2 separate regions of the Homo sapiens genome follow, and region 2 is linked to region 1. Evidence: fine-mapped expression QTL. A gene starts in region 1. The other region holds a variant in brackets. All regions are shown on one strand. Distances are from middle to middle.

The links. PIP is the estimated chance that this variant, and not a neighbour inherited with it, causes the effect.
Region 2: its variant is the best candidate, but not a certain one, in a credible set for the expression of LAMC1-AS1 in thyroid (GTEx, PIP 0.74).

The regions. Positions count from the first base shown.
Region 1 is chr1:183,139,553-183,143,947 of GRCh38, forward strand. LAMC1-AS1 (LAMC1 antisense RNA 1) reads right to left here and starts at 1,718. Exons shown (of 3, transcript NR_149048.1): 1 at 1,590-1,718; 2 at 1,259-1,417. It overlaps LAMC1 (laminin subunit gamma 1), which reads left to right. Exons shown (of 28, transcript NM_002293.4): 27 at 852-951; 28 at 2,982-4,395. The coding sequence ends at 3,238.
Region 2 is chr1:182,205,537-182,209,931 of GRCh38, forward strand. All of the region lies in intron 2 of LINC01344 (long intergenic non-protein coding RNA 1344), which reads right to left. Among named protein-coding and RNA genes, the nearest start is that of LINC01344, 110 kb to the right of the region's middle. The variant G/GACGT (reference allele first, on the strand shown) is at 2,488.

The sequences.
Region 1 (4,395 bases):
TTTCTGCCTTGCTTTCTTGTTCTTTTTTAAATCTTCACATTGTTTTGATCCCAAAATGTTTGTGTTGTCCTTACTCAAAACTAGGAAAAACAATTATGTGGTAAGAGGCTCAGAGCCACTTACTTAAATCTCAACTAGATTTATTTGTGAGAACATCTGTTTTCTGATATTTAGACACTTCCTCTTCCATTGCTGTTTCCTATGACTCATGCACAGTTATTTGTTCAGGTTTCATGGAATTTCCCAAGTGTATTTACCTTTGTTTGGTTTTTAAAATGTAAATTATATTGCCCCAATAAATGAGTATGTGTGTCAGGGGGACTGTGGCTGGGTCATTGCATGTGGAGGGGGAGTTTACAGAAGAGAACTCCTAGAAGAGCTTTACTTAACTATGAAAATTTTCAAAGAATAGGACATTTCTAATAAGTCCCTAAGAGTGTCCTGAAGGACATGTTTTGGTTCTGAAACATAGTTTCTATAATCATCCTTAAAAAATAACTTGTTTCTGCTTAATAGGCTTTACTATGAATATACCTCCATATATTATTGAGTTAGAATGTGAGAAAAGGAGATTAATTTTTGAAGTACAAATATAGTGAGTTAGTGAGTGTAGGCATCCTGACTGCCTAGTCATAACTTTGATGAAGTAGAAATACCAACATCCTCAATATGAAGATATGCAGCAGCCCCACCAAAAAAAAAAAAAAAAAAAAGCAATGAGAGGTTTCAATTTCCTAAGTTAGAAAAGGGAAGAAAATCTGGAAATTAGATTTGTTGGGTCATTGGGAAAAAAGATTTAAAGAAGATGAAAACATACAGTCAAGACTCTTTGCCTCATTTTTCCCTTACAGGCTTCACAGGCTGCTCAAGAAGCCGAGATCAATGCCAGAAAAGCCAAAAACTCTGTTACTAGCCTCCTCAGCATTATTAATGACCTCTTGGAGCAGCTGGGTACGTAGCCATAGAGTCATTTTTGTCAGTCTCTGAATCTTTTGTACTGTTCTTAGGATCTGATATAGTACAGTTGACTCAAAAGCAGATGATATAGGTTTACATGAATCCCTTTTAAGTCATTAATTAAATTATTAATATTTCCTTTTGCTGTTGCTTATTTTTGAAAGCCTTATAAAATAAATGTTTGTCTTGCATGACAGGGTCTTTAAGAGCAACTTGCTTCTTTACCATACTTATTATTTGTCAGCTTTACAGTGTGACCTGAATCATGACTTTAGGCTGTGTTAATGTGACAAGTACTTACTAGGTGCCTTCTGTGGACCTTGCCCTAAGTAGAACACTGTGGTCTGAGGAGTTTCTTTTTATATTTTGAAGATATATTGCCAGCTAGGGTAGCATTTATGGTCCAGTATCATTGTACAACTAAACAGTGATTTTTCTTAACTCATCTTGCTGGCAGTATCTTTAAGGGATTTAAAGTAAAGGATTTCAATAGTAGAATAAAAGAATAGTAGAATCACAGGCTGGGTGTGATGGCTCACACTGGTAATCCCAGTACTTTAAGAAGCCATGCAAGGAGGATAGCTTGAGGCCAGGAGTTTGAGACCAGCCTAGGCAACATAGCGAGATCTCACCTCGTCTCTTCAAATTATTTTAAAAATTAGCTGGGTGTGGTGCTACACGCCTGTAGTCCTAGCTACCCGGGAGACTGAAGCAGGTGCATCACTTGAGTTTGAGGTGATAGTGAGCTGTTATCGTGCCACTGCACTCCACCCTGGGCAACAGAGCGAAACCCTGTCTCAATTTAAAAAACGAAAAAGAACACTTAAAACTGGTCATGACTTTACTGCCTGGAATTCTCTTCATTTGCTAAGTAAGGACAGTCCGATGAGGGGAAAGCTTTCATGCCAAAAGAGAGAAAAACCTTGATTTTTCAAGGAAATCTATGCATACGGAAACCTTCTTTTAATCCAGTTTGATAGGGTGTTAGGGAGCAGGCTTCATTTTAGGACAGATGCACTTTTGTCACCAGACTCCATTATAAAGTGTCAACACTCTAGCCAGGACTCTTTGTAGCAAGGCATTATATTTTAATTTGCCAGCCTTTAAAGACTGGTGCATTTTGTTTTGGTGGGGGGCTACAGGGGTATTTTTTATCGGTCTCAAATGTCAAGAATAAGTTATGTGCCAACAGATGGATATAAAATGAAAGTAAGCTAGAAGAGAAAGCTTTTTGTGGAACAGCCAGACTTTTAACATTAGTCTGACTTGGGTTAGTATCTTTGCTTTGTTGCCTATAGGCTGTGCAAACTTGGGCAAATTATTTAACATCTGAGAATCACTGATGTAAAATGGTCTTGTGAGACTTTAATCAAGTCAAGTATGCATGAAATGCTGTCTATTGTGTCTGCTTTTGTTTGTTATGGAAACATCTCATTTCTTTCAAAAGAACCTCTTTTTCTTGCTAAGCTTAAAGTGAAGACTTGCTGAAATTATTTCAGCATTTTACTCCTGGCCATTTTCCATAGGAAGGCTCCTAATAGTGTCTAACTCCTGAAAGCAGAAAGTGACCTTCAAAACTGACCCATCTTCCCTGGAATCTCTCTAAGAGCTGAGGGATTAGGGTTCTTAGAGATTTGTGTATCTTTGATGGCACTAAAATGACATAGAGTTTACATGTATACACCTGGAAAAGGTATTAAATGTTATCAGATGGCCCTCAAAGGTCTAGAACATGGTAGCTGTGCATTGAGGAAACATTCTGCAAAAACCATTGTCTCAGAAAGAAACATCCAGCTCTATATTAATTGTATGCTCAGACCCATCCCTGCTGGGTTAGGTCAGCATTTGTACTTGGTTTGCATATTTTATACCATTGTGTGACATCAACAATCTGCAAGTCACATTTGCCGGGCTGCCTGTGCAGAATGGCAGCTGCTGGGCCTAGAGTCTAGTGCAGGTACTTGTGAAGGGATCATTCTTACTGAATATGTCTGTTCTCTTCTATGTACTTTCTGACCCTCCAGGGCAGCTGGATACAGTGGACCTGAATAAGCTAAACGAGATTGAAGGCACCCTAAACAAAGCCAAAGATGAAATGAAGGTCAGCGATCTTGATAGGAAAGTGTCTGACCTGGAGAATGAAGCCAAGAAGCAGGAGGCTGCCATCATGGACTATAACCGAGATATCGAGGAGATCATGAAGGACATTCGCAATCTGGAGGACATCAGGAAGACCTTACCATCTGGCTGCTTCAACACCCCGTCCATTGAAAAGCCCTAGTGTCTTTAGGGCTGGAAGGCAGCATCCCTCTGACAGGGGGGCAGTTGTGAGGCCACAGAGTGCCTTGACACAAAGATTACATTTTTCAGACCCCCACTCCTCTGCTGCTGTCCATGACTGTCCTTTTGAACCAGGAAAAGTCACAGAGTTTAAAGAGAAGCAAATTAAACATCCTGAATCGGGAACAAAGGGTTTTATCTAATAAAGTGTCTCTTCCATTCACGTTGCTACCTTACCCACACTTTCCCTTCTGATTTGCGTGAGGACGTGGCATCCTACGTTACTGTACAGTGGCATAAGCACATCGTGTGAGCCCATGTATGCTGGGGTAGAGCAAGTAGCCCTCCCCTGTCTCATCGATACCAGCAGAACCTCCTCAGTCTCAGTACTCTTGTTTCTATGAAGGAAAAGTTTGGCTACTAACAGTAGCATTGTGATGGCCAGTATATCCAGTCCATGGATAAAGAAAATGCATCTGCATCTCCTACCCCTCTTCCTTCTAAGCAAAAGGAAATAAACATCCTGTGCCAAAGGTATTGGTCATTTAGAATGTCGGTAGCCATCCATCAGTGCTTTTAGTTATTATGAGTGTAGGACACTGAGCCATCCGTGGGTCAGGATGCAATTATTTATAAAAGTCTCCAGGTGAACATGGCTGAAGATTTTTCTAGTATATTAATAATTGACTAGGAAGATGAACTTTTTTTCAGATCTTTGGGCAGCTGATAATTTAAATCTGGATGGGCAGCTTGCACTCACCAATAGACCAAAAGACATCTTTTGATATTCTTATAAATGGAACTTACACAGAAGAAATAGGGATATGATAACCACTAAAATTTTGTTTTCAAAATCAAACTAATTCTTACAGCTTTTTTATTAGTTAGTCTTGGAACTAGTGTTAAGTATCTGGCAGAGAACAGTTAATCCCTAAGGTCTTGACAAAACAGAAGAAAAACAAGCCTCCTCGTCCTAGTCTTTTCTAGCAAAGGGATAAAACTTAGATGGCAGCTTGTACTGTCAGAATCCCGTGTATCCATTTGTTCTTCTGTTGGAGAGATGAGACATTTGACCCTTAGCTCCAGTTTTCTTCTGATGTTTCCATCTTCCAGAATCCCTCAAAAAACATTGTTTGCCAAATCCTGGTGGCAAATACT
Region 2 (4,395 bases), 930 kb before region 1:
ATTTCAATTGCTTAATAGCCATGTGGCCAGTAGCTACCAAACCAAACACCATGAGTCTAAATTCATAATCCCAACACTCTTCATAATCTTTGGAGCTCTTCTTGAAAGTCTTTCAGAAGATAGGAACAGAACTGACAAGATAAAGAGCCTATTTTTAGTTATTTGCTTTAGTCCAAGAAAAGAAAAGAAATAAACAATAGATTTCACAACTTCCATCTACAACCAGTAGTCAGCTTAGTTGCTGAAGGTCAGATGAGAAGCAGAGTGATGGAATCCACATCATTACATAACATGTGTCAGGTGTTCACATGCTTTCAGAGGGAAGCTGAACACAATGTGAAGATCAGAAAGCTGTAGATCCCTGACCAGAGGGTTGCTCATGAATCCAGCTCACAAGGAACACCAGCAGAGCTACCATTAACTCCCTCCCAGTCCTTCCTCTCCTTACTGTCACTCTCACCCCTGCCCCAGTTTGAAAGGCAAGGTGCATGAGCCAGGCCTAACCAGTGTAGGACAGACCCCATCCTCCTCACATCCAGAGGGCAGAAAGAAACCTCAAGACCTCCTTTCACCCCCAGCCCCTTGGAGAATCCTCTAACACCAGGAGTTCTCAAACTTTTATGCACAACAGAATCACCTGGAGGACATGTTAAAATTCTGATTCTGTGCCTTATCCCCAAGAGGTCTGAGATGGGGCTGGGGAATGTGCATTTCTAGCAGGTTCCAAGGCTGTTCATGCTGTAGGTCAGAAGATGATCACACATTGAGAACCCAAAGCTCATCCCTAAGTTATCAATATATCACTCAACAGCAAGAACAGATCTAAGAAAAGCACAGTGCCTTTTTCACTCTTGATAAAAATAAATGTGATTTTTAAATAGTTGATGTGTTTGGCTATTTCTCCCTGCCCTCCATTATTTCCTCTAGTCCAGGAAGGAAGGAAGGAATCATAATGGAGAGACAAAGATGAAAGGGAAAAAAGCATGGGGGCAGGGAAGTTAGCGGGAAATAGGGAGATGGACAGAGATAGATCACCAGAGTTCAGGATGGTGGAGAATAAGGCAAGATCTGTGCTCAGGGAGGAAAAGGGCAGCACAGCCACCTCCAGGCCCCTCAGCTGGGCCTGATGCACAGACTGGGGACAAGTTTGCCCATCTTTCTTTTCAATGAAGCCACAAAAACATCTTACACAGAGATTGTTTTCCTCTTTGCTTTTAAGAGAGGAAATCATGGTTGAATGCTATGTGACAATGGGCAGTTGCAAACCACAAGAGGCTTGACACCCCCATTCCAGGCCCCATATAGTGCTTCACTCCCCCTTTGCCTATGTGTGGGCTTTTTTTTATCTCTAACCTTTCAGGGTGCCTGGGTTTTAAAAGGAGAGGCAGTGAGACTTGCTGAGTTGCAAGCAGCTGGGAATTTGGAATGCATCTTTGGAGATACACACTGAGCCTGGCTCAGAACTTCCAAGAAAACTCAGTGGGAGGGGAGGAAAAACAACGCAATGACATGACGCCTTGCAGGGCCCGCCTTGGCCTTACTGAATCGCCCAGAGATTGCATTCCAGCTGCACTGAGGTGACCCAATGTTCCAGTAAACAAGGAGGGGATGGGATGGAAGGACCTCAGATCAGGCTACCCTGAGCTGTTAAAATAGAACACAGGGGGCCCAGCAAGGTGGGGCAAGGGGGCTGTGAGGCCTTTGTGCACATCCTGGATCAGTGAGGCACACCCACGAGGCACACCGGACACACATATACACATATTCACTTCTGGTGGGACTGGGACAAATACCAAAAACCCATGTTCTAGCCTCAGAATGGTCAGAAACTGGTGACCTCTTTAAGATCCTTCCTAGGAATCTCAGAACACAAAGGGTGAAGTAAGGAGACACTGACTTAGGCCAAGCCAGGCCACTGACTAATGGTGCCATGCTCTAAGTAATCCCTTTGCCTTCCAAAAAGACAAACTGAGCCACAGCAGACGAGCACAGTCATTGAGTCCATTTCCCCATTTGATGCCATAGCATGGAATAGTTGACTGATGATGCTATGACTCCTCGGGCTTATCCCGCCCCTCCTCCCTTGCCCCCGCACCCTCCTGTTTTCTCCTCTGTCTCCACTTCCATTTCACCAGCCACCAAATGAGCCTATGTGACAATCAGAGGGGTTTAGTAGAAATATGAGGAAGAGTGCCCTGGCTCAGACAGCGTAGCTATGGAAGTTCCTTCCCTGAGTGTCCATCTGCCTGGGCTAACTTGGGGCTTTGTAGCCCAAAGAGCATATATAGCTTGCCTCTCCCGCATAAATGTGTGAGTGATATCCTATATTCCTCTATATTCTGTATGTCTAGGTGACCCAAGACTTTATCATCCACACTGGGACGGCTCTAAGAATTAAAGGCAGTGCTCTTGAAAACAATTCCAGGACAAAGACATTAACCAGGACATAGGGCTGCCTGCATGACAAGGGGCCCATTTACCATCCTG[G/GACGT]ACGTCCCTCCCACATTTCTCGGCCCGTCCTGCTTTGCAGATGACATATTTTTACTATGTCTGATTTGTCCTTTCCCTTTACTGGTTTTAGCCTATGTTCCTTCATTTTCTTATATAACAATCACATTCAGGCAGTTACCGCTTCTCTATTTTGAAGTGAAAAAAGGTGAGTTTTGAAAATTCCCTATGTAAAAAGTTGTAAGACCCCTTCATTAAGGCTCTGAGGGGTGTGTTCCAGCAGCCTCCATGAGCTGCTTTTCAATTCCAGAGATTGGCTACCTTCTGAACATTAGTGTCCAGTGGGTATTGTTGGTGTTACTCACCAAATAGTCACATTCCAGTTTCTGGAGAAGCAAAACAGTGTGAAAAATGGTGATCCTTGCTTGAGTACTCAAAGCAGGGAAAAGGCTTTTCTCATGCTATTTCCTTAACACTCGTGGTAACAGGACCTGCTTCCTCTCTGTCTCTCCAAAGTGCTTAAAGTGTCGTGCATGTTTTCCATGTTTACAGCCACCCTACAAGGTTCCAGTCATCCTCATTTTACTGACTGACACTCTAAGTTGAAGCCAGAAAGCGGGGATAGCCAAGTCTTATCCAAACCCAGATCTACCAGGTCCCAAAGCCCATGCTTGTGCTCCATCAGTCTGGGCATCTGCTTTGCAAACCTGGCTTGACCTTGGAATAACCAGGCATGGACCCTTGTTTATTTTTCAGAGTCTCATTTTTTTTTCACCACTGATTGTTCCTTTCCATTACAGCTGGTGATATCATACTCCAGCAAGCGTTATCTAGTAGACACCAAGACTTGAAGCAGCCTCAGAAAAGTACTGGGCATAATAGGGCTTGGGCTAGAAGTCTGGCATTTCTGTAAGTCACCTAGGCTAAAGTCCAGAGAGGCAAGACAAGTCCAGAGAGGCAAGATGGTGGGGGAATGGAGGGTGGTGCACAAAAGTTTTACTAACTTAGGGGATAAGTGGTCTCCATAAGCAAGACTGGATGCCACGCCAAGCTCTCCCAGGCAAAGCTCCTTCCAGGGCAGGACTCCATGTGTGGAAGTAAGTAGCACATTTGCCTATGGTTGGGAGTAAAGTCTAATAAGAGAGACTAGAACAGGGCTTTAATTACCTGTTCTAAGCACCTCTGCTTATCTCAACTGATTTACCTCTGACCACTCTGCCAGGTGACCACTCTGTAAGGTATTTCTCTGGCCTTAAATGACCATCTCTTACAATACCTGCCCTCCATCCTTTCCCCACCTTCCTTACAAATATAAAGTGGTGGACACAGGAGCGTGGACTTAAAAAGTCAGACATTCCTGGGTTTACTTATTAACTGTGTGACTTTGGGTATGCTTCTGAACTTCTCTGAGCCTTGGTCTCCTCCTCTATAAAAAGGAGGATAATAATCAGGCCCTCACAGACTTGTTAGAATAATTAAAATAAAGCTATAATTTGTCTCATATAGAGTGGGCACTAAATAAATATTTATTGTTGATTTACTTGCTGCTGTTGCTTGAGATTGGTGTGAGCTCTCCCTCCAGAGTCCACTAGCCCTAGATCAATAGAAAGAGAGCATTTTAGGGAAAGGGACCTTAGCATTCATCTAGTCCACCTTCATTTGTGAAGAAACCCCAGGTTCAGAGATACTTAATTGCCTTCTCCACGATTATATGCCTTACTAGTTCCAACCTTCAAATAAGGATGTTAGTTCGTTGGAGTGTTAGAAAAGAGCTCTGGCTTTGGAATCAGGCCTATGTGAATTTGAATTCCACTTGCCAGCTTGGTGACATCAGACAAGTTAAAGTTACTTGACCTGTTTCTGCTTCACTTTCTCATGTGCAGCCTTGGGATGATAGAGCTAGCCTCGCAGGATGGTGGGGGGGGGGGCTAAGTGGGATACTGCACACCA